Homo sapiens: one gene and its partners. The protein of the gene in region 1 purifies or fractionates together with the protein of each later gene. This does not show direct contact. Each region holds a gene or a part of one and is shown in the gene's direction. Other genes may lie near its edges. The genes, in order: TRIM58, RNMT, ZEB1, HMCES, PPFIBP1, TMOD3 and DYNC2LI1.

Region 1 (3,500 bases):
CACGGCCACCCGTAGAGCCTGCACCACCACGCCCAGAAGAACGAGGATTAGTATATTCATGAGCAGTATCAGAGTCACGGCCACCCGTAGAGCCTGCACCACCACGCCCAGAAGAACGAGGATTAGTATATTCATGAGCAGTATCAGAGTCATGGCCACCCATAGAGCCTGCACCACCACGCCCAGAAGAACGAGGATTAGTATATTCATGAGCCGTATCAGAGTCACGGCCACCCATAGAGCCTGCACCACCACGCCCAGAAGAACGAGGATTAGTATATTCATGAGCCGTATCAGAGTCACGGCCACCCATAGAGCCTGCACCACCACGCCCAGAAGAACGAGGATTAGTATATTCATGAGCAGTATCAGAGTCACGGCCACCCATAGAGTCTACATTTGGTTAGACTATGGGCTTAAAACTGTAGGTCATCTCTTATTAGCTGATATGAGTAACGTTACTTCCAGTAAATTTACATTTCCTTGCTTATAAAATGCTAAAAATAAATTGCTTGGAGGACAAAATGAAACATTTGAAAGCACCCCACCTCCTAAAAGTAATCAATATGAAAGCACTGCAAAGTTATCAATTAGCAAGAAGTTTGGTTTAATTTATTGGCTGAGAATTTGATGAGTTGCTTGAATTAGTGAGTCAATAAAGCCAAAAATATTGTCAGTTATTTTCATGTAGGAATAAGCAGTGTCACAAAAAATTAGTGTGTTTAGTCTGATTGTATTATTCTTTAAAACAGTATAGATTCAGTATTGTTTACAATTTCATTTTAAAATCTAATTTATCCCAAGTAATGAAAACTATGTCTAAATAGTGACTTCACTACTTAGAGGGAAAGAGTGTAAAGTCCCTTAATGAGAAAACCCATCTCTGCAGCATAGTACCCACGTTCTCCTGGGTAGATGAATGTATGCTAAATGCCCAACTTGATTAAAATCGTCATGGCACCCTCAGACTCAGCAACCTCATATCCATATTTGTTTTTATGGAATGAAATCATTCAAAATGTGTGATTAATTTTATCTCACCCATTCTTTTAAACATTGGAATATATCATTCAACAACAACAACAAAATACTCTACAATCCGTAGCTTTGTGTTGCAGATATGTACTTCACCAAAATACACAGGCTGTAAGTGGCTGACACAGAATATTGAAGAAAATCAAAAAGAGTATGCAAAGGGTAATGAGAAGTTCTAGTTTTGAATAAGGTGACCAGGAAAGACCCCGCCCTGCAGGGGATAACCCAGCAAATATATGATCTGGAAGAAAGCATTCAGGCAGCAGAAATGAGCGCCAAGGCCTGACGTGGAGGATGGCAGGTGTGTTCCAGGAGCTGTGAGGATGTCAGTGTGAGGACTCTGTGGCAGAGTAAATGACAGGAGGGTCGGAGAGACCAAGAAAGGGCTAGATAGGCAGGCCATGCTGAGCATGATACTTTATCCCTGAGCGAAATAGGACATAGTTGAAAGTTGTACCTAGAAAAATAGTTTGATTGGACTAATGTTTTATGAGGATCACTCTATATGCTTTCTTGTAAGTAAATTACAGAGAGGAGAAGATTGACATGGGAAAAGCAGTTAAGGGTCTTTGCAGTAATTTGATGAGAGATGATTATGTGTTGGAATAGATGTTATTACGGAAGGTGCCGCAAGATGGACAGATTTTTGTTATATACTGAAGGCAGAGCTGTTAAGATTTGCTGTTGGATTATATATGATGTGCTATAAACAGGAAGAGCCATGAATGATTCCAAGGTTTTGGATCTTGCGAACTGGCAAAATGTGATTGCCACTTATATTGATGAGGAAAGCGACAGTTGAAGCAGAAGAAGGGCACAGGGTTTTGGATATGTGGATGTTGCGATGAGTGCTAAATATTCAAATGTTGCTATCAAGTGGGCAGATGAATGTACAATAGGGAGTTTCAGGGTAAAGTTCAAAGCTAAGCACATGCATTGGGAATCAGTCAGCATATGAATGGAATTTTATCAAAGCAATGAACCAGCCAGCACCCGGGTAGATAGGGAGTGAGGTGAGAGAGAGAGAAGAAGTCCAAGTCTTGGGACTATAGGTTTCTCCAGTGGTGGTGGTGGAGGAGAAGAGAACAGCAAAGAGGATCAAGGAGTAGTGAGCAGTGAGGGAAGGGAAACATGGATGAGTGTTACCTTTGGAAAAGGGAGATTTTCCAGCACAAGTAGATTCTCAGTGTTGAGAGATACAGAAAAATCATTGAAGATGAACTCTGGGCCGGGCGCGGTGGCTCACGCCTGTAAATCCCTGCACTTTGGGAGGCCGAGGCGGGCAGATCACCTGAGGTCAGGAGTTCGAGACCAGCCTGATCAACCTGAGGAAACCTTGTCTCTACTAAAAATACAAAATTAGCCAGGCGTGGTGGTGCATGCCTGTAATCCCAGCTACTCGGGAGGCTGAGGCAGGAGAATCACTTGAACCCGGGAGATGGGGGTTGCAGTAAGCCAAGATCATGCCATTGAACTCCAGCCTGGGCAACAAGAGCAAAACTCCATCTTAAAAAAAAGACAAACTGACAAGTAACCATTCATCAACACGGAGGTCCCTGGGAAGATGGACATGCGCAGTTTGGTTGGGGTATGGTCACATCATGATGAAGAATTGAGTTTAGGAGAGAAGGGGTAGGGAGAGGAATGGGATACAGACCATATCAAAAGCCATTTCACAGATCTCTTTTGTTAGAAATGAAGCAGACCACTGTGCCGGAAGAGGAATGGCTTGGGAATACATGACCTGTTAGATTGTGTTAAATGCACAATCCATGGAGACCTACCTTTCAATCTCTGTTATTTACCTCTAGAGTTTGGGAAGACCACATAAACTCTTTGACTCTGAATCTACTCTTGTGTAATGTAGGGATGACAATGGTGACCCTCAGGGTGGTTACATAATAAAAATAATGCAATGCGCAGTTACGTGACCACTCAGGTTGGGTATCAATAAAAATTCACTAGACCGGGCGTGGCAGCTCACGCCTGTAATCCCAACATTTTGGGAGGCTGAGGCGGATGGATTGCTTGAACCCAGGAGTTCGAGACCAGCCTGGGCAACATGGCAAAACCCCTTCTCTACAAAAAAATACAGAAAACTAGCTGGGCATGGTGGTGTGTGCCTTCCCAGCTACTCAGAGGGCTGAGGTCAGGGGATGGCTTGAGTCTGAGAGGTGGAGGCTGCAGTGAGCTGTGATTGCACCACTGCACTCCAGACTGGGCAACAGAGCGAGACTCCGTTTCAAAAAAAAAAGTAGTTCACTGTAAGTGTTTAAAGGCAAATAAGTATAGTGGTAGTGGTAGTAGCAGTAGCAGTAGCAGTAGCAGTAGAAACAGTATTTGTTCTGATATTAAAAATCAAACTATATTAACATGTTAGTCTGATTTTGCATTGCTATAAAGAAATACCTGAGGCTGGGTAATTTATTAATATAAGGAAATATGCTTTATTTTGGCTCATGGTT
Region 2 (3,500 bases), on another chromosome or scaffold:
GTGCGTGTAGTCCCAGCTACCCAGGAGGTTGAGGTGGAGGATCACTTGAGCTCGGGAGGCCAAGGTTGCAGTGAATGGAGATCCTGCCACTGCAATACAGCCTGGGAGACAGAGCAAGACTCTGTCTCAAAAAAAAAAGATGCTAGTTTACATCTGATCTTTGACAAACCTGACAAAAACAAGCAATGGAGAAAGGATTCCCTATTTAATAAATGGTGCTGGGAAAACTGGCTAGCCATATGTAGAAAGCTGAAACTGGATCCCTTCCTTACACTTTATATAAAAATTAACTCAAGATGGATTAAAGACTTAAATGTAAGACATAAAACCATAAAAACCCTAGAAGAAAACCTAGGCAATACCATTCAGGACATAGGCATGGGCAAAGACTTCATGACTAAAACACCAAAAGCAATTGCAACAAAAGCCAAAACTGACAAATGGGATCTAATTAAACTAAATTAGATGTACTTATGCACAGCAAAAGAAACTATCATCAGAGTGAACAGGCAACCTACAGAATGGGAGAAAATTTTTGCCGTCTACCCATCTGATAGAGGGCTAATATCCATAATCTACAAAGAACTTAAACAAGTTTACAAGAAAAAAACAACCCCATCAAAAAGTGGGCAAAGGATATGAACAGACACTTCTCAAAACACGACATTTATGCAGCCAACAGACACAGAGGAAATGCTCATCATCACTGGTCATCAGAGAAATGCAAATCAAAACCACAATGAGATACCATCTCACGCCAGTTAGAATGGCGATCATTAAAAATTCAGGAAACAACAGATGCTGGAGAGGATGTGGAGAAATAGGAACGCTTTTACACTGTTGGTGGGACTGTAAACTAGTTCAACCATTGTGGAAGACAATGTGGCGATTCCTCAAGGATCTAGAACTAGAAATACCATTTGACCCAGCAATCCCATTACTGGGTGTATACCCAAAGGATTATAAATCATGCTGCTACAAAGACACATGCACACGTATGTTTATTGCAGCACTGATTCACAGTAGCAGAGACATGAAACCAACCCAGATGTCCATCAATGATAGACTAGATTAAGAAAATGTGGCACATATACACCATGGAATACTATGCAGCCATATAAAAGGATGAGTTCATGTCCTTTGTAGGGACGTGGATGAAGCTGAAAACCATCATTCTAAGCAAACTAACACAAGGACAGAAAACCAACCACCACATGTTCTCACTCATAGGTGGGAGTTGAGCAATGAGAACACATGGACACAGGAAGGGGAACATCACACACCGGGGGGCCTGTCATGGGGTGGGGGCCTGGGGGAGGTATAGCATTAGGAGAAATACCTAATGTAAATGATGAGTTGATGGGTGCAGCAAACCAACATGGCACATGTATACCTATGTAATAAACCTGAACGATTTGCACATGTACCCTGGAATAATATACCCTAGTATAATATTTAAAAAAAATTGGTTTAAGAGAGGATTCTTCCTTTTTTTTAATTTTTTTCTGTATTTCAAAAGTATGTATAGTTTGTATTCCTGAAGTAGTACTTACGGATTATTCTCCTAATTATGTTATTTCAGTGATTTAGCATGTTTAATTCTGAATTGTAAATTTCCGTTATTGTAACTAGGACTTTCATTTCTTTCCCCAGCCATATCCTGCAAATGAGAGTTCTAAACTTGTCTCTGAGAAGGTGGATGACTATGAACATGCAGCAAAGTACATGAAGAACAGTCAAGTAAGGTTACCTTTGGTAAGTTTTAATTTATGAAAGTATTTTATAGAGAATGAAAAAAAGAACATGCTTATATGGAGACATAGGAAATGATTTCACTTGTTTACAATACTTAGGCTCACTGACTTACAAATCAGTTGTTTCCACTAAGTGATGTTGACTTGTTATAACCACAGAATATGGAATAAAATTTATTTCAATGGACTGAGAATGGAGTGCTATATCTAAGGCAATGAGGACAGTGAAAAAATTACAGGGTTGGTGTGCAAGTTCCCTGCTAATGTAGGCACCAATGAACCACAGCATTTCATACATAGAATGCAGCAGTCCAGGAATTTAAATGGGAAAAAATTACATCTTCACCTATACTAATTTCTGCGTAAAAGTTTACATTTTAAGAATGATTACTACAATAGTACCACAGTGGTATTAGCTGCTGCTGTGACTTTGTCATCAGTAGAAGTTACAGATATTTTCATAGCACATTTTTGCTAATATCTTAGAATATTGTTTTCATTTATCACATCTGGAAAAATGACATCACTAGAACTGCCACTAGATCTTGTTATTATAGTTAATGGTGTGTGCAAAGCAACACATATCTTTAATATTTTGATAGCTACATAAATATAATTTATTTCCTTTGTGTGATATGTACTTTATTTTGTTATTCCTTTGAAAAAACACAAAAATTGTATTTTTTCCACCAGTGCTGTTTGATATTTCAAGATAGGCCTTTTTTATTTTTTCATTTTCCAAATTAAGAATACAAGATAGGGCCGGGTACAGTGGCTCACGCCTGTAATCCCAGCACTTTGGGAGGCCGAGGCAGGTGGATCATGAGGTCAGGAAATCGAGACCATACTGGCTAACAGTGAAACCCTGCCTCTACTAAAAATACAAAAATTAGCTGGACGTGGTGACGGGCCCCTATAGTCCCAGCTACTTGTGAGGCTGAGGCAGGAGAATGGGGTGAACCCGGGAGGCGGAGCTTGCAGTGAGCCGAGATCGCAGCACTGCACTCCAGCCTGGGCGACAGAGCCAGACTCTGTCTCAAAAAAAAGAAAGAATACAAGATAGGCCGGGCGCAATGGCTCAACGCCTGTAATCCCAGCACTTTGGGAGGCTGAGGCGGGCGGATCACAACGTCAGGAGATTGAGACCATCCTGGCTGACACGGTGAAACCTCGTCTTTACTAAAAACGCAAAAAGTTAGCTAGGCGTGGTGGCGGGCACCTGTAGTCCCAGCTACTCGGCAGGCTGAGGCAGGAGAATGGCATGAACCCAGGAGGCAGAGCTTGCAGTGAGCCAAGATCACGCCACTGCCCTCCAGTCTGGGCGACAGAGCAAGGCTCTGTCTCAAAAAAAGAAAAAAAAAATAATACAAGATAGATGCATTTTCCAGTTACACACACACACACACACACACACACACACACACAATGCCCTCTTCACACACATTCACCCTTTGGATGAGAATTTGAGAATTTGGCAGGAGGATAAAAGTCTGAGAAGATGACTTTCAAAGTGAATCTCACCGATTTCTTTTATATGCTCAGGTCACAATATGATTAACAGTGAATCGAATGTGTATTTACAGTGAAGTTAGGGTCTTTTGGCCATCTCTGCCCATTATTTAGAAATAAGCATATGTTTACTTCCATATTGAATCTAAAATTTTCTTTTTCTCTTTTGTAATTTTAGGGAACCTTAAGTAAATCAGAATGGGAAGCTACAAGTGAGTATATCATCAGCATAGATTA
Region 3 (2,544 bases), on another chromosome or scaffold:
ATTGAGAAGCTACTACAGAGACCATTTGGCCTGCAAAGCCTTTAATACTCACTACCCTTTACAGAAAATAGTTGCCAACTCCTGGCCTATTTCATTCCTTCCATCAGTGAAGTACTGATAAATTTTAACACCTGGTTCTCTGAAGGGTGGGGAAGCCCTGATTTGTAGTGTTTGCAGCTTTTTGTGGCATAAATACTCCCATCATGGTGGATTTCGAGCTTGAATGTGATGTCAGCTTGCAGAATTCCTGAAAATTTAGCAGTAGACTCTCTCCAGCCAGTACAAACTGGCTCCAGCACACTCCTGTGTCTCTCTCTAACATGGGTTGCTGTAGAAGGGGCTGGGTTTATCCTGAGCTCTTTAATCCCCTACCTGCTCTTCCCTGCCCCCACTACCAGCCATTATGACTACAGTATCCATATTTATCTTTCATATTCTTAACTGTTTCAGTGTATTTTTTACTCTTGTGAGAAAAGATAGAATTGTTTTTCCTTCTTCAATCTGTGGATTCATACAGTGACACTTGGAAGGTTCTTGGAGCTAAAAACTGGTTACATAAGAGAAAGTCACACCTCTCAAAATCAGCCCCTTGTAACTCAGTCCTCTGGTTTTCAGAGATCTAAGAAGAGTTAGAAAATCCCCTTCCTCTTCAGGCAAAGTTAAATATTAGCAAATATCAAAGTGAAAAATATATATGAAAAACTACACTATTTCTAAAATTAAAAATCATTTCTGCATTTGTTAGTGTTAACTGCTTGATAGCTCTGAAATTGGACATTATCGATCCTGACTATGATCAGTTGTTGCCAGTCCTTTTCATGTCTGGGCAGCAACACTCCTGTAGCCCATGCGTTCTCAGGAGGGGCAATATTGCCCTCACGGGCCAAAACTTGTTTCTTAGGGGGCAAAAAAGTCTGAGATACTACAATGGCTGTGGTTTTCTAAAGAAGCTCAGTATATATACTGTATATTTATGAGTTTTATCGTATATAAAAAGTGTATAGTAAACATTAAAATTTCACTGGGAGCAGAGCTTGTGACTAGGAAAACAAAATGACTAAAAAGGGACCTTGTAGTGATAATGAACACAAGGTGAGCAGCAAGTCTGTCCCTGTCTGCCCTCACTGTGCTCGTTCACTACCAGACATCTCCTCCCAGCTGCACTTGGCCCATTTTCCACCTCGCTGTCATGATGCTTGTATTTTTGGCATTTCAATGTCATGTAGCTCCCATTGACCTAATCATCTGCACAGCAGAGTGTAGAGCACTACGTTTTTTAATGTAAAGAACAAACCAAATTGCAATATTATATTACAAAGAGTTTGGGACCTGGAAATGTTTTAAAAATGAAACTAATAACCCTCCCCTTTCTACAACATGAAGTACCCCAAAAACCGTATAAGGATTTTATTTGCTGAATACCACCATTTTATTTAACAGAATTCTTATTTTGCAGGTAAAAGACCTCATGAGTGTGGAATCTGTAAAAAGGCATTTAAACACAAACATCATTTGATTGAACACATGCGATTACATTCTGGAGAAAAGCCCTATCAATGTGACAAATGTGGAAAGCGCTTCTCACACTCTGGGTCTTATTCTCAACACATGAATCATCGCTACTCCTACTGTAAGAGAGAAGCGGAAGAACGTGACAGCACAGAGCAGGAAGAGGCAGGGCCTGAAATCCTCTCGAATGAGCACGTGGGTGCCAGGGCGTCTCCCTCACAGGGCGACTCGGACGAGAGAGAGAGTTTGACAAGGGAAGAGGATGAAGACAGTGAAAAAGAGGAAGAGGAGGAGGATAAAGAGATGGAAGAATTGCAGGAAGAAAAAGAATGTGAAAAACCACAAGGGGATGAGGAAGAGGAGGAGGAGGAGGAAGAAGTGGAAGAAGAAGAGGTAGAAGAGGCAGAGAATGAGGGAGAAGAAGCAAAAACTGAAGGTCTGATGAAGGATGACAGGGCTGAAAGTCAAGCAAGCAGCTTAGGACAAAAAGTAGGCGAGAGTAGTGAGCAAGTGTCTGAAGAAAAGACAAATGAAGCCTAATCGTTTTTCTAGAAGGAAAATAAATTCTAATTGATAATGAATTTCGTTCAATATTATCCTTGCTTTTCATGGAAACACAGTAACCTGTATGCTGTGATTCCTGTTCACTACTGTGTAAAGTAAAAACTAAAAAAATACAAAATACAAAACACACACACACACACACACACACACACACACACACACACAAAATAAATCCGGGTGTGCCTGAACCTCAGACCTAGTAATTTTTCATGCAGTTTTCAAAGTTAGGAACAAGTTTGTAACATGCAGCAGATTAGAAAACCTTAATGACTCAGAGAGCAACAATACAAGAGGTTAAAGGAAGCTGATTAATTAGATATGCATCTGGCATTGTTTTATCTTATCAGTATTATCACTCTTATGTTGGTTTATTCTTAAGCTGTACAATTGGGAGAAATTTTATAATTTTTTATTGGTAAACATATGCTAAATCCGCTTCAGTATTTTATTATGTTTTTTAAAATGTGAGAA
Region 4 (3,817 bases), on another chromosome or scaffold:
GCTTCTTTGATGAGTCTGATAAACCACATTTGAGGACTCCTAATCTAGACAGTGATGGTGAAAAAGACAAAGGAGCCCTTGACCATATTGTTTCTCCGTCCCCAACCATGATTTTTGGTGTCTCTTTTCTGTATCTTTGCTTTCCGAACTACAAGTTGCAGGAGCTCCAGTCCTTAGTCTCCTTCAGGAGGATTTGAGAGCATTCCTACCATGAACCTTAACTTCTTAGAATCAGCAAGGATCCAGAGGGTGTATTTTAGGAAGGGAAGGCAAACAAACAGAAGGCCTGCAGTGGGGAGAGAAGTTCCAGAGCAAAAAGCTGGCCCCCACTGACATTTGGGGGTAAGGATTTAGGAGTAGTGATTGTTTTTAGGTGGCATGGAGGGACTTAAAATAGGACATACTTGGAATGTTCCAAGAATAGACATTTTAGAATGCCGTGTTAAGGATGATTGTAAGAACAGCTGTCCCCCTCTCTATTTTTCTTAAAGTTTTTTCCATACCCACAGTGTCATCTTTTTTTCTTTTGTTTTGATTCTGATAAACTCCTGCAACCGTGGCACTTTTTAAAAATTAGATAACTCTAAAACTAATTCTATATACAGGTTGAATATCCCTATCCAAAATGCTTGGGAACAGAAGTGTTTTAGATTTTGAATTTTTTCAAATTTTGGAATATTTGCATTATATACTTCCTAGCCGAATATCCTAAATCTGAAATGTACCAACAAGCATTTCCTTTCAAAGTCATGTAAGCACTTAAAAAGTTTAGGATTTTGGAGCATTTTGGATCTTGGATTTTCAGGGTTAGGATGCTCAACCTGTATTCATTTTGGACTAGACGCTGCCCATTTCTGCCATGGTCTTTTTTTTTTTCCTTTTTCTTTTTTAGAGACAGGGTCATGCTCTGTTGCCCAGGTTAGACTGCAGTGGCATGATCATAGTTCACTGCAGCCTCGAACTCCTGGGCTCAAATGATCCTCCCACCTCAGCCTCCCAGGTAGCTGGGACTACAAGCGTACACCACCATGCCTGGCTCATTTTTTTAAATTTTTTATAGAGATGGGGTCTTCCTATGTTTCCTAGGCTGGTCTCAAACTCCTGGGCTCAAGCGATCTTCCCACCTCAGCCTCCCAAAGTGCTGGGATTACAGGCATGCACCACTGTACCTAGCCCTGCCATGGTGTTTACTCCAAAAGATGTCACATTCTGGAGAGGTGGCATTGTGCTAATTCAGAACCTTTCAGTTCAGGATTGGGGTGTGATGTAAAGGAAGCAGAAGGGAGTAGTGACAGTCAAGAAGAGGTTGTACAGATTGTCTGCACAAAGAGGAAACAATTTAGCCTTATCACAGTGGCTGTTAGAAATTCTTCTGTATCTCTCCAGTCTCGTTTTCCAACACTCCCCCTGGGTCATGCTGAATTACATTCTTTTCCCTGAGAATGCTTCATTCTCTGCACATTTGGAATGCCTTTCAGCTCTCTTCTCTGGCTGGTCCCACACAATCCTCTGTGAAACCTTCTCTAAGATCTACTTTCCTGCCCCTTAGAGCACACTCCTCTCTTTCCACTCTTGACTGGTGGGCCCCAGCTGGCCCTTAGTAACATTTTCCAAGCCTGGGTAAGTACCTAATGCCTCTTCCCCTGTTTCTTCCCTTGGACTTGGCCTTTTCCCAAAAGCTTGAGCTGTATGGTTTGAGCTTTTTCCTCTTTCTTGTAGGAGCTCAGGGCAAGTGGCAGTAGCCAGAGGATGTTGCAGTGGTTGGCCACAAAGTCACCCAAAAAGGAAGACTCAAAAACACCTCAAAAGGAAGAGTCAGATGTTCCCCAGTGGTCCAGTCAGTTCCTGCAGAAGAGTCCACTCCCCACCAAGAGAGGCACTGCAGGACTCCTAGAGCAATGGCTGAAGCGGGAGAAGGAGGAGGAACCTGTGGCCAAGCGTCCTTACAGCCAGTGACACAGGACTTTCAGAGACCAAGGCCAGGGTCTGCTGCACTGCTGTTCTGATAATAGGTTCTTAACATTGTATGTATATGTGTTTGCTTTGGGAGGAGGTGGCACTGTGTTAGTTGACAGTTGTGGGCTCATGTAGTCTTTTTTGCCATGAGTAGGAGCCCCTAGTGGGGCTGGTGGACAGCTTTGGAAGAGGTGTCCTGCTGCTGTTACCAGCCATGTGGGCCCCATAGGGGCACTGCGCCTGCTGCCCTTTCCTGGCAGGGCTGGTGGAGTCTTCCCTCAAAGCATGCCTTACCCAGCTGGGAAGTCTCTGCCCTGATCTGGTACTCCTTGTAGTAAGCTGTTTTCTGCTCAGCCACTGGGCTCTTTCACTTTTTTAGTTCTTAAAAATTTATTTTTAAGTTCTAAAATAAAATAAAAATAAGTTCTTAAAATTTATTTTTTTCCTGAATAAATTGTATTTGGTAAACTTCTGCCTACATTTTGGAAAGTGATGCTGGTGGGGAAAGTTCTAGATCTTACTTGGTTTCTTCTAGAATCAGTCTTCAGGAATGGATTTTGTCACAAATGGGGCATGGGGGCTTTCTGAGGAAATAACTACAAGTCTTGGTGGTGGGCTCCTTATTATGTTTCTTTTTCTTTCATTCTTGATACTTGGAAGTCGTCTGAATCCTTTAGCTTCAAACCAGCCTGAGTTTGAGTGCTTGCCGTAGCAGAAACTATCCTTACCACAGGTGGGAAGGAAAGGACCAGTTTCTAGCAGTGTCGGGCCACTCCTCTTTCGAACATCCCTAAGGGAGGCATTCACAAAAGCTGTCCCAAGCAGCTGGAAGAAAACAGCTTCCGAGATGACCAGGAGGACTGGGCGGCGCCGAGCCCAGAACGCTCCTGGCGCAGCACCGTTGGCGTTGGCCGATTGCTGCTGGTGGGGGGCGGGGGTGCAGGCCCCAGTCTCTATGCAAATCAGGGATCAGAAGATCGGAATTTCCACCAATCAGCGGGAAGCCTCGGCCCTGTAACTGCTAATGGGAGACAGCAGCGCCACGCCACAGGCTTTTCCCCTGGTTTCGGGAGGGGTGGGGAGCCAGGTGGGGCTCCCGCCCAGACCCTTTCCCGAGGTCCGCCCTCTCCGCCTTTTCTCTAAATTCCTCTTTTGAGTGCCCTCCCTTCCGGTTGAGAGGCGGGGGTTGGCCCGTAGTTGTACACTCAGTCACCCTGCACTGTGGAGGCGGGGGCCTCCCTTGTGGACTGATTTGCGTGGGATTTGGTTGTTTTATTAAGAGATTTAAAAAATTCAGATGACTTACTAGTATGACTGTTTTGTCATATTTGCTTCCAGGTTAATAAATGACAAAAATGAAATTCCCTTTGTTTTTCATTATCATCTCCCCACTGTTTCTCATGGTTGCAAATTAGTTTGGTGAGGTCTTTTCATTTTAACATGAAAGAATATAATGCCTGCAGGGGCTTGTTTCCTTTTCATTCAAGTTTTTATACTTTCATATAAACGTGATGTTAGAAGCAAATCCTGGCCGGGCGAGGTGGCTCACTCCTGTAATCCTAGCACTTTGGGAGGCCAAGGCAGGTGGATCACCTGAGGCCAGGAGTTCAGGACCAGCCTGGCCAACATGGTGAAACCCTGTCTCTACTAAAATACAAAAATTAGCCGGGCATGACGTTGGGTGCCTGTAATTCCAGCTACTTGGGAGACTGAGATAAGAGAATCGCTTGAACCCGGGAGACGGTGGTTGTAGTGAGCCAAGATCACGCCACTGCACTCCAGCCTGGGCAGCTGAGTGAGACTCTGTCTCAGAAAAAAAAAAAAAAAAAAGCAAATCCTTATGTCTGAGAGCATACAGTAT
Region 5 (3,500 bases), on another chromosome or scaffold:
AGGTGGTTCAGTGACAGTAGTCCTGGCTGATGAGATGTAAATAGCTGGATGCCCCGTTCCCCAAAGCTCTTAAAAGGGGAAGCCTCTGTGAGCTTGCCTGTTAAGCCTTTTGCTCTTTGTACTTCTTCCCTGGAGAAAGTAAGCAGGCCATCGCGTGACCAAAGACAAGATGCTTGAGGGTTAAGGATGAGTGGGTGGAAGGTTAGAAGGAGGCTGAGAAGCTGATAGCATTCTGCAACTGCTCTACTGGACCCATTTCTTGACTCTGTGAGAAAAATAAAATCTCTACTTGGTTAAACCACAGAACTTGGGTCAGTTACTTGCAGCCAAATGTGATCTTAACTGAGTCTAGATGTCTAAAAATCATAGTTCATCTTTTCTTTAAAAATAAAAACGTGTTATTTTGTACGAGAAAAACAGGACTTTGGAGCCATGCAGATCCTCAACTTGAATCCTGGCTTTGCTATTTATTACAGTCTAATATTGGCAAGTAACTTAACCTCTCTGGGTCTCAGCTTTCTCATCTATAAAATGGTAGCTCTGATATATGTGCCATAGCATTTTTTGAAGGATTAGAAATAATTAGAAATTATTATTATTTTTTTTTGAGACAGTCTCGTGCTGTCACCCAGGCTGGAGTGCAGTGTTGCAATCTCGGCTCACTGCAACCTCCACCTCCTGGGTTCAAGCGATTCTCCAGCCTCAGCCTCCCAGGGAGCTGGGATTGCAGGTCCCCACCAGCATGAGCAGCTAATTTTTTTTTTTTTTTGTATTTTTAGTAGAGACAGGGTTTCACCATCGTGGCCAGGCTGGTCTCAAACTCCTGATCTCAGATGATCTGCTGGCCTCAGCCTCCCAAAGTGCTGGGATTACAGGCATGAGCCACCACGTCCGGCCAGAAATTATTAATAGGAATAATAATGGCATATTCAGCACATGGAAGATCTTCAACAAATGGTGGCACTGTTACCAAAGGGAAGTGTAGTGGGGAGTCTGAAAGGGGGAGGCAAAGAATTCAGCTCTTTCTCCTAGAAGGTTCTCGGTAGGTTTATAGCTACAATCCCTTGACTCCATCTACTTGGCATTTATTCCGCCTCCTGTCTCTTATCCTCATTCCCACCTGCCCACACCAGACTACTTGGAACTCTTCTGTTTTCCAGCTTTGGTTTATAAGGATGTCCTTATAAAAATTTTATTAACTATAGCATAGGGATGAAGGGCGGGGACTCCAGAGTCAGACAGATGTGGATTAGAATCCCCTGTTGTTACTAGCTGTGTGATTTTGGTTAAGTCTTCTGTGAAATGGGAATAATTGGGTGGTTATGAAGATTACATCTGATAATGTATGTGAAGCACTAACAGCTGGTTTCTTGGCACACGACATGCACTGCTTTGATGACAGATATTGTTGTTACTATTTCATTAAGCACGTGTTAAGCAATTCCCAGCCTTGGTACAAGATCCTCTTGGAGACGGAAAGACAAACAAAACATGATCTTTACCTTAAGAGTATTCACATACAGGAGATGGGGGCAGAAAGAGATGGCACACCTTATTCATAACTGTAATAAAATGCAGATTTAGAATACTGTTTAGCTGTTAAAAAGATTGAATATACTGACTTGTACAGATGTCTATTATATATATTTTAAGAAGTAAAAAACCAAGCACACGTGTATGGTTTACATTTGTCAGTGCATGAAAAACTGCCAAGTGGGATGGCTTATGGGAGTTGGGATGAAGGGAACTTTGTATTTTTTTTTTTTTTTACAGTATATTACATCTATATTACATTACTCGAGAAATACAAAATATGTTAAAATTTTAAACATCTATTTATTGGTCCTTTTGGAGGTTGGTTGGGGAAGAGCATTCTGTGAACTAGACTAGTCACCAGAGCAAAGGAAGAGACTGGGTTTCTTGAGGTTTCATTAGAAGAGGTGGGATTTGACTGGGTCTTAAAGGGTGGGGAGGAGATTTTGAGGAGGCAGTGGGGACAGATGAGCATACTTGGGTTTGGAGCAAAATGTAGAATAGAGTGAGATTCGATTTAGAGAAAAGAGAGAACAATATTGTTTGAAAAGACGTAAGCTATATTGGGGCAAATCTTACAGGGTTTTAAAGAGAGTGACAAGATTGTACCTTAAAACAGGATGTTTTTAAGAAAAGAAGAAGTAAGGGAACTATTGTTTTATAAAAATGACTCTGGAAATAGCAGATTGGGTATTTCTAGTGGGTATATGGGCAAGGGGAGGGAGAAGGACAGAACACCCTAAATCAAGAATGGCCCGTATACAAAAGTTAATTTTCTTTTAAAGATGATGTCTTGCTATGTTGCCCAGGCTGGAGAGCAGTGGCTATTCACAGTTGTGATCATTGTGCACTCATGGGCTCAAGCAATCCTTCTGACTCAGCCTCCCGAGTAGCTGGAACTACAGGGACATGCCTCCATGCCTGGCTAAGTGAAAGTTGAATTTTAATGGGAAATATGAGTTAAGATTTGAACATCTGGAGTTTGAAATTCCATCATGACCCACATTATCCTTAATTTTCTCATTGTATAAATGGATAAAATAATAATACCTATCTTATCAGGTTTTTAGGAGAATAACAATAATAATAGGTAACACTTACCTGGTAGGTTATACTTTTTATGTACCAAGCACTACTCTAAGCACCTTAAATATTTCAACCTAGATTAATCCCATATTACGATGAGGAATCTGAGGCACAAGGAGGCTAAGTAACTTTCCCAGGATCACACAGATCATGTGTGTCAGACTCAGAATTTGAACTCAGGCAGGTGCAGCTCCAGGGCCAGTATCTTCAGCCTCTTCATAGTCCTACCTCTGGCATGGTTCTGTACTTGGGGTGTTAAAAGCCAGTATGAACTGTTAGTTGACATTATTCATATGAAGATGTTAAGCAAGAATTTAGAAATTTAGGCTTGGAGTTTAGGCCAAAGCCTGGACTAATGGATCATCTCTATAGGGCTGTTATGTAAAGAGTGAGAATGGTTGAGCTCCCCGAACAAGAGTATGTAGAGTAAAAAGAGAAGCAAGCATACAGTCTTCAGGGGACTCCTGATATTTAGAAATGGTCAGGCAAAAAAGAAGTTAGGAGAGGAGATAGAGCAGGATCTGCAGAGAAGTGGAGGATGATGGTGGCCAAGGGAAGAAGCACAACGTAAGTGAACTAATCATGCCATCCAGTGCAACAGACTCGTTACAAAGCTGTATCCAACAGACTGTCCCTGGTCCTGCTGTCAGGTCAGTTCATGAACCTGGAATCCAGAATGCAAAAAATTGAGGACTACACGGGGGCTGATGAACTGCAGGTGGCCTGGTTAGTTCATCCTTTCAAGGAACTGATCCGAGAGAGACATGGTAGATAGCTTGGGTTTGAGGAAGGCTCAGGTAGAGAGGAGGATATTAAAAGAAGAAAAAGGGAGGAAGGAATGAGTGCATGGTCCAGGGTAGAGAGATGGGGCTAGACCCAAA
Region 6 (3,500 bases), on another chromosome or scaffold:
CACACCATACAATTCACCCATTTAAAGTGTACAGTTCAGTGGATTTTGCTACATTCAGAACTGTAGAACCATCACCACCATTTTAGAACATTTTCATCACACCAGAAATAAACCCCTTACCATTAGCAGTTACTACCTAATTCCTCCCAATTCCCCCCTGGTCTCCCCCACCCAGCCCTAGGCAACCACTAATCTACTCTCTCTTAAGATTTGCCTCTTCTGGACATCTCATATAAATGGAATCATATAATATGTCATATTTTGTGCCTGGCTTCTTTCACCCTTATACTACTCTTAAGAATTCGTTTTCACGCCTATAATCCCAGCACCTTGGGAGGCTGAGGCGGGTGGATCACGAGGTCAGGAGATCGAGACCATCCTGGCCAACATGGTGAAACCCCGTCTCTACTAAAAATACAAAAATTAGCCAGGCATGTTGGCACACACCTGTAGTCCCAGCTACCCGGGAGGCTGAGGCAGGAGAATCGCTTGAACCTGGGAGGTGGAGGTTGCAGTGAGCCGAGATCATGTCACTGCACTCCAGCCTGGTGACAGAGTGATGCTCCGTCTCAAAAAAAAAAAAAGAAAAAAGAAAAAAGAAAAATACTGAAATACAGTCAAGGTTCCTCCTGAGATGTGCACCCTTTTTGAGCTATAAAGATATCCACTGCCTCGGGTATATATGTTCAACACCTGCACCCACTCACTAAGGAAGGAACACAAACACACTAAGACAAACTTACAAACTAAGGTAACATATACAGTGATGATAACCCCCTACAAATAAACAGTTTCATATCTGGGCATAACTAAGCATGAACATCATGATAAGTACATACAAGTGAACACAGTTCCTGAAGTGTCTGTGAGAAAGTGAATAAAAACATGGTAAACTAGAAGAAAATGAGGGCTGGGTTTGATATATATATATATAGACTTGTAGGTAAGAAGATTGTTGTATTTCCTTAACCATAGCATAGCAATTCTTTTGAGCAGGATATTATTAGTGATACTTATACAGTAGGGGATTTCCATCCATGTGGAAAATTACAGCCAACAAAATATTTTCATTCCCTGGGTGTGGTGGTAAAACTTTGATGAGGAGTTAAGGAATATTCAGAAGAAGCCCCTCAAATGTATATGAGTCTGGCTTATATTCAGGCAGCCCTTACCCTGAGGCAAACGTGACAAGATATGATACAACCCCCAAGATTTATTTTCATTCATGGTGGGCTATAATTAACCCAGGTTAATACTCTTAGGGAACTATTCTTTTTTTTTTTTTTCCTCTTTAATGTGCCCACTTGAGTGCTAGACCAGCTGAGGAGTTGGGGGTCTAATTTCACTGGAAATAGCAATAAATATGTGATGATTTCAAAGTCATGCCCACCCCACTTTTGTTTTTCTCCTGTTGTCCCTAAGATTTACAGTTTCTTGGTGAAAAATTACAGAACCCTACACAGAAATGGACCAAGGCAGATGTGTAGGATTTCACCTCTGCAAGGCCTTCGGGGCAGGTGGGCTCTTCTGTTAGTCCTCAGCACACCCTCTGTGCTTGCCTTTCCTCTGCCACTTTTCTTGAACCCCCATTATTATTCCTTGTCAAGTCATCTCACTTCCTGCTTTCCTTAGACATTGGCCAGCATTCCAAGTGATATAGTGTGCCCTCCACCAGAGAATAGCTGGCACTGCTTTAAGCCCCTTAGCCTTCCCTCCTACCTCAGAAGAAACTGTTTCCTCTTTTCTTCTCCCACTGCCTGAATCTGGTATAGCACACAAGGGGAGCCTCTGCAGAAATGTTACTTGAACTGGTCCCTGAAAGATGTGAAAGGATTTGAACATGAGAAAGAGTGCAAAAGGACATTTCCTGTGTAATGAACCGTGTGATGTAAGGGCTGCAGGCGGAAGAGCATGGAGGCGTACTTACTTCTGTGTAACACAGGGTGTGTGAAGATCGCTCCTTTCCCTTTACTTTTCTTCTTCTTGCCCTGGATTCCCTCCCAGCTCCAACCTTTTTCAGCCTGTGCTTTGATCTCTTTGTTTAGTATATACTTCTCCACTCCTCTCTGTGTAGCTAATTCTGTCCCTCCCTGACCACCCACAGTGATCTCTGAATTTCTGTACACTAATAGCCAGTACCATTCTTTTGGCAGTTAATTATATATTTTCTTGAAAAAAACAAAAAGCACTTTATGTGCATGTCTCATTTTCCCAAATAGAGTATGTTAGTCAAGGTGTTTAGGTCTCCGGGAACACAAACCCACTTAAGCTATCTTGCTAGATGGTATGGTGGCAGAGCTGGGAGTTGTACTGCATTACTATTGTAAGGCTGCTGAGGTCCGTGAAATGACCTACCACTGGTACCCAGAGCAGACACTTTGAAAGTCTCTGTCCTCTCTCTGCTTGTAGGGCTCTCTTTGGCTTCTTTCTGTGCCTCTGCTCCATTTTAGGACATTAATTTTAATTTTTAAAAAATAGTATGCATTACTGTGTAATTTATCTTGATTGCTGAGCTTTTTTGCACCCTATTAAATACTGAGACACCCTGAGGCAGGTGCCTCCTTTACTTTTTCCCTGTAGCCCCAGCCCTGCTTCATTCTCTTCCCTGCAGACTGACCTTCTGTGCTTTCCCCTTAGCTTCAGCTTCAAGGTGACTAGCTTGTTATGGTAGTGCCTCCAGACTTGGTGATACCTTATGTCTCAACTTGAGTTTTGTCTCCCAGCTTTCCAGATTTCTGGAGAAGAATTGAATTTGATCCGTCCTGGTTAGATTGAGAGTGGTGACCCCTGTACCAAACAGCTGTGAAAGATGTGGCTTTGTTATGTTGTTTCTTTGGCTGTATATTTCACAGGGACTGGAATAAGGGGTGGGTCCCCCCACACAAGGAGGTTTGGGGTTGTTCATCTCAAAACATGCTTATTTTGATGTCAGAAGGAAGTGACCATGCCTTCTCTTTTTTGGTATGTTCCCTGCATCTGGCAGATTGACAGCTAAGAAATAGGTGTATCTCTCTTTTTTTTTTTTTCCATTTTGTTTGAGACTGGGTCTCACTCTGTTGCCTAGGCTGGAGTGCAGGTGTGATCATAGGTCCCTGCAACCTCCGCCTCCCAGGCTCAAGCAATCCTCCCACCTTAGCTGCCCAAGTAGCTGGAACTAAAGGCACGTGCCACCATGCCTGGCTAATTTTTTGTAATTTTTATAGAGATGGGGTCTCTTTATGTTACCCAGGCTAGTCTCAAACTCCTGGGCTCAAGCAGTCCTCCTGCCTTGGCCTCCCAAATTGCTGGGATTACAGAGGTGAGCCACCACACTCAGTCTTCTCTTATTTGGTGTCTATTTATTCCTATGACTTGCCATTTGACCATTAGGATTAACTTTTAGGTATAATAGTCAATTCAGAGCAATTTTTTTTTTCGAGACAGGCTTTCGCTGTCATCCAGGCTGGCGTGCAGGTGTGATCATAGCTCACTGCAGCCTTGAACTCCTGAGCTCAAACAAT
Region 7 (2,736 bases), on another chromosome or scaffold:
ATCATAGAGAGCCTTTGTGGCAGGCTGAGGAATGGGAGCTTGGTTTATTAGGCAGATGGTAGCCATTGAATTTTGGTTTATGGGCGTGAAGTGATTTTGAGATTTGTAATTTCAGAGTATTAACACGCTGAAAGATATCAAGGACCCTGCGAGAGATCCTCAGTATGCTGAAAATGAAGTCGATGAGATGAGAATTCAGAAGGATCTGGTATTATCCTAAACATTTACTTAATTTCATCTGAAATTTTAACACAAAACCTGGGGTGCCTTGGGAATTCCTTACATTTTTCTCTATGTATTTACTTAGAGTATCTTCTTTACTATTAAAATTATTTAAGTAGTACATCTATTTAAATAACACACTAATAGTATACTGTAGAAAAAATAAAAATTTGATATGAATAAAGAAAAATTTTTAAATCACCTGTCATCCCACCACCCAGACATGACTTAGTGTTCACATAAACCTTTTTGATTTTCCAGTTTTCATTATATTAAAGATGAGTGGTGATTCTTACCTTGCTGCTGGAGAGACATTTTCTTAATAGTCTTTGGTTTGTGGAATTACATGAAGAGCTTTGTTTTTGATTAGGACATTCAGACATACCTATACTTTCCTTGTACTAGAAAACGTATCTTGCCCAGTTAAGGACTGAAAGCACGATCTGAAAGCACACAGACATACCTGACATAACCCAGGTTCTCTCAGGAAAATGCTTAAAAGTGGACACCACCATCCCATGTATCACTAGATAGCCCCATTTGAACACACAAGTCTGATGTAAGAATGTTAAGAGTTGGCAAATTCACCATCACTCAAATACTTAGATTTTTCTTTTCTTTTTCTTTTTCTTTTTTTTTTAAGACGAGTCTCACACTGTCGCCCAGGCTGGAGTGCAGTGGCATGACCTCGGCTCACTACAACCTCCGCCTCCCGGGTTCAAGCAATTCTCTGCTTCAGCCTCCTGAGTGGCTGGGATTACAGGTGCCTGCCACCACACCTGGCTAATTTTTTTTGCTTTTTTAGTAGAAACGGGGTTTCACCATCTTGGCCAGGCTGGTCTTGAACTCCTGACCTCGTGATCCATCCGCCTTGGCCTCCCAAAGTGCTGGGATTACAGGCATGAGCCAGTGCGCCTGGCCTAGATTTTTCTAAAAACAAACAAGCAAACTTAGATTTTAGTTTTATTTGATAAAATGAGACGTTGTACAGAATCTGTCCTTATATGAGTAAACTTATATATGCTAAGCACTAGATCGAAAGCCCCAGCAACTTCTCAGGTGGCAGTCACGTTGTTGCGAGGGTAACCTGAAAACAGCTGTCAGCTGGGAGTAGGAGCCAGGGTTTTTTTCTCAGTATTCACCTTCGGGGGCTGTTGGAGAAGTAAGCAAAACATTTTATGTAAACGGTCCAGAAGACTTTTGAAAAATATGCCATGAATATTTAGAGGTTTTATAGCTGTAGCAAAGTGAGAGGCATGTTGTAGAAACAGGAAAATGACCTTATGTAACCCTTATTATGTTTGCAGCCTGGCTATAAGGATTAGTTGGAAGTCATCCCTGATTAATATTTATCTAGGAGTCAATGATTAACTGTTGTTGTTGATAAGAATATCTGTTTATATTGTATAATGATCACTTTTATTAAGTTCATATACATCAGTATTATTAAAGGATTAGGGTATTTGTGAGCATCATGAGTTTTCACATTCAAATCTGTCTTCTCTAAATGACTTAAAACCATAAGAATTTTGTGTGGAAAAGGAAGGCAGCCCCACAGTACCCATATCACCCTTCATTCATCTCTTGTATCTCACTGCCAGCAGATCACCAATTCCTGTCATCTCTTGGTTCGAGATTTTTTTTTAACCTACCTGAAAAGTTATGCTGTCCTAAGTTTGCCTCTAAACCACTTTTATTTGTGTGGTTTTAGACGAATTGATTCCAGATTGCACACACAGGACCTTAACATAATTTTATGCTTTAGCTGTAAAGATACCCTAACAATTACCAGTGTTGTTGCTGTTATTTCATTGATAATCCGAATCTAAATTTTGACATTCTACTATATAAAATTTTTAATTTGAATATTATTTCATACTATTTCATGAGTAGTTGTGAGACCTTAAGTTGTTTCCAATTGTGTGCTGTGAAGTCAGTCCTCAAGGATCTGAGGATTGGTAGGAAGACCCCTTTCATCTTTCCTGCAGACTTAGGGTCTTTCGTGATTAGCCCTCTTTAATTATTTAAAGTTCTGTCTTTTGCCAGACTTCACATGGGCACCAGAAAATACTTAAGTAGTATTTTCTGTTTTTTAAAAGTCCTCTAGCTTTAGAGCATTCCCGATTTTAAGGGAATGCGAATGTGGAAAGCACTTGCTGAGCCCTTCTACCTCTTTTGTGTTTTTTTCTTTTTCTTTGATACTGTGTCTTGCTCTGGCATCCAGGCTGGAGTGCAATGGGGAGATCATGGCTCACTGCAACCTTGAACTCCAGGGCTCAAGGGATCCTCCCATCTCAGCCTCTCAAGTAGCTGGGACTACAGGCACACATCACCATGCCCGGGTAATTTTTTTGTTTTTTGTTGCCCAGGCTGGTCTTCAACTCCTCGCCTAAAGCAATCCTCCTGAGTTGGCCTCCCAAAGTGCTGGGATTACAGGCATGAGCCACTGTGCCCAGCTTCTTTTCTATTATTTTTGTTAAAGCAAAAAAAAAAAAAAAAAAAAAAAAAAAAAAG

What was found.
Region 2: the proteins of TRIM58 (region 1) and RNMT purify together in Homo sapiens (co-immunoprecipitation; one large-scale study listed by IntAct). This does not show direct contact.
Region 3: the proteins of TRIM58 (region 1) and ZEB1 purify together in Homo sapiens (affinity purification with western blotting; one study listed by BioGRID). This does not show direct contact.
Region 4: the proteins of TRIM58 (region 1) and HMCES purify together in Homo sapiens (co-immunoprecipitation; one large-scale study listed by IntAct). This does not show direct contact.
Region 5: the proteins of TRIM58 (region 1) and PPFIBP1 purify together in Homo sapiens (co-immunoprecipitation; one large-scale study listed by IntAct). This does not show direct contact.
Region 6: the proteins of TRIM58 (region 1) and TMOD3 purify together in Homo sapiens (affinity purification with mass spectrometry, with the first as the bait; one study listed by BioGRID). This does not show direct contact.
Region 7: the proteins of TRIM58 (region 1) and DYNC2LI1 purify together in Homo sapiens (affinity purification with mass spectrometry, with the first as the bait; one study listed by BioGRID). This does not show direct contact.

Annotation. Positions count from the first base shown.
Region 1 is NC_000001.11:247,870,687-247,874,186, forward strand, and holds part of TRIM58 (E3 ubiquitin-protein ligase TRIM58), read left to right. Parts: intron 1-3,500. UniProt on the Homo sapiens protein: E3 ubiquitin ligase induced during late erythropoiesis. Directly binds and ubiquitinates the intermediate chain of the microtubule motor dynein (DYNC1LI1/DYNC1LI2), stimulating the degradation of the dynein holoprotein complex.
Region 2 is NC_000018.10:13,750,673-13,754,172, forward strand, and holds part of RNMT (mRNA cap guanine-N(7) methyltransferase), read left to right. Parts: intron 1-1,653; coding exon 1,654-1,755; intron 1,756-3,441; coding exon 3,442-3,475; intron 3,476-3,500. UniProt on the Homo sapiens protein: Catalytic subunit of the mRNA-capping methyltransferase RNMT:RAMAC complex that methylates the N7 position of the added guanosine to the 5'-cap structure of mRNAs. Binds RNA containing 5'-terminal GpppC.
Region 3 is NC_000010.11:31,525,216-31,527,759, forward strand, and holds part of ZEB1 (zinc finger E-box-binding homeobox 1), read left to right. Parts: intron 1-1,456; coding exon 1,457-2,049; 3' UTR 2,050-2,544. UniProt on the Homo sapiens protein: Acts as a transcriptional repressor. Inhibits interleukin-2 (IL-2) gene expression. Enhances or represses the promoter activity of the ATP1A1 gene depending on the quantity of cDNA and on the cell type.
Region 4 is NC_000003.12:129,302,870-129,306,686, forward strand, and holds the end of HMCES (abasic site processing protein HMCES), read left to right. Parts: intron 1-1,719; coding exon 1,720-1,956; 3' UTR 1,957-3,317; downstream 3,318-3,817.
Region 5 is NC_000012.12:27,530,706-27,534,205, forward strand, and holds part of PPFIBP1 (liprin-beta-1), read left to right. Parts: intron 1-3,500. UniProt on the Homo sapiens protein: May regulate the disassembly of focal adhesions. Did not bind receptor-like tyrosine phosphatases type 2A.
Region 6 is NC_000015.10:51,836,153-51,839,652, forward strand, and holds part of TMOD3 (tropomodulin-3), read left to right. Parts: intron 1-3,500. UniProt on the Homo sapiens protein: Blocks the elongation and depolymerization of the actin filaments at the pointed end. The Tmod/TM complex contributes to the formation of the short actin protofilament, which in turn defines the geometry of the membrane skeleton.
Region 7 is NC_000002.12:43,805,039-43,807,774, forward strand, and holds part of DYNC2LI1 (cytoplasmic dynein 2 light intermediate chain 1), read left to right. Parts: intron 1-115; coding exon 116-208; intron 209-1,172; exon of another isoform or gene 1,173-1,353; coding exon of another isoform or gene 1,354-1,373; intron 1,374-2,736. UniProt on the Homo sapiens protein: Acts as one of several non-catalytic accessory components of the cytoplasmic dynein 2 complex (dynein-2 complex), a motor protein complex that drives the movement of cargos along microtubules within cilia and flagella in concert with the intraflagellar transport (IFT) system, facilitating the assembly of these organelles.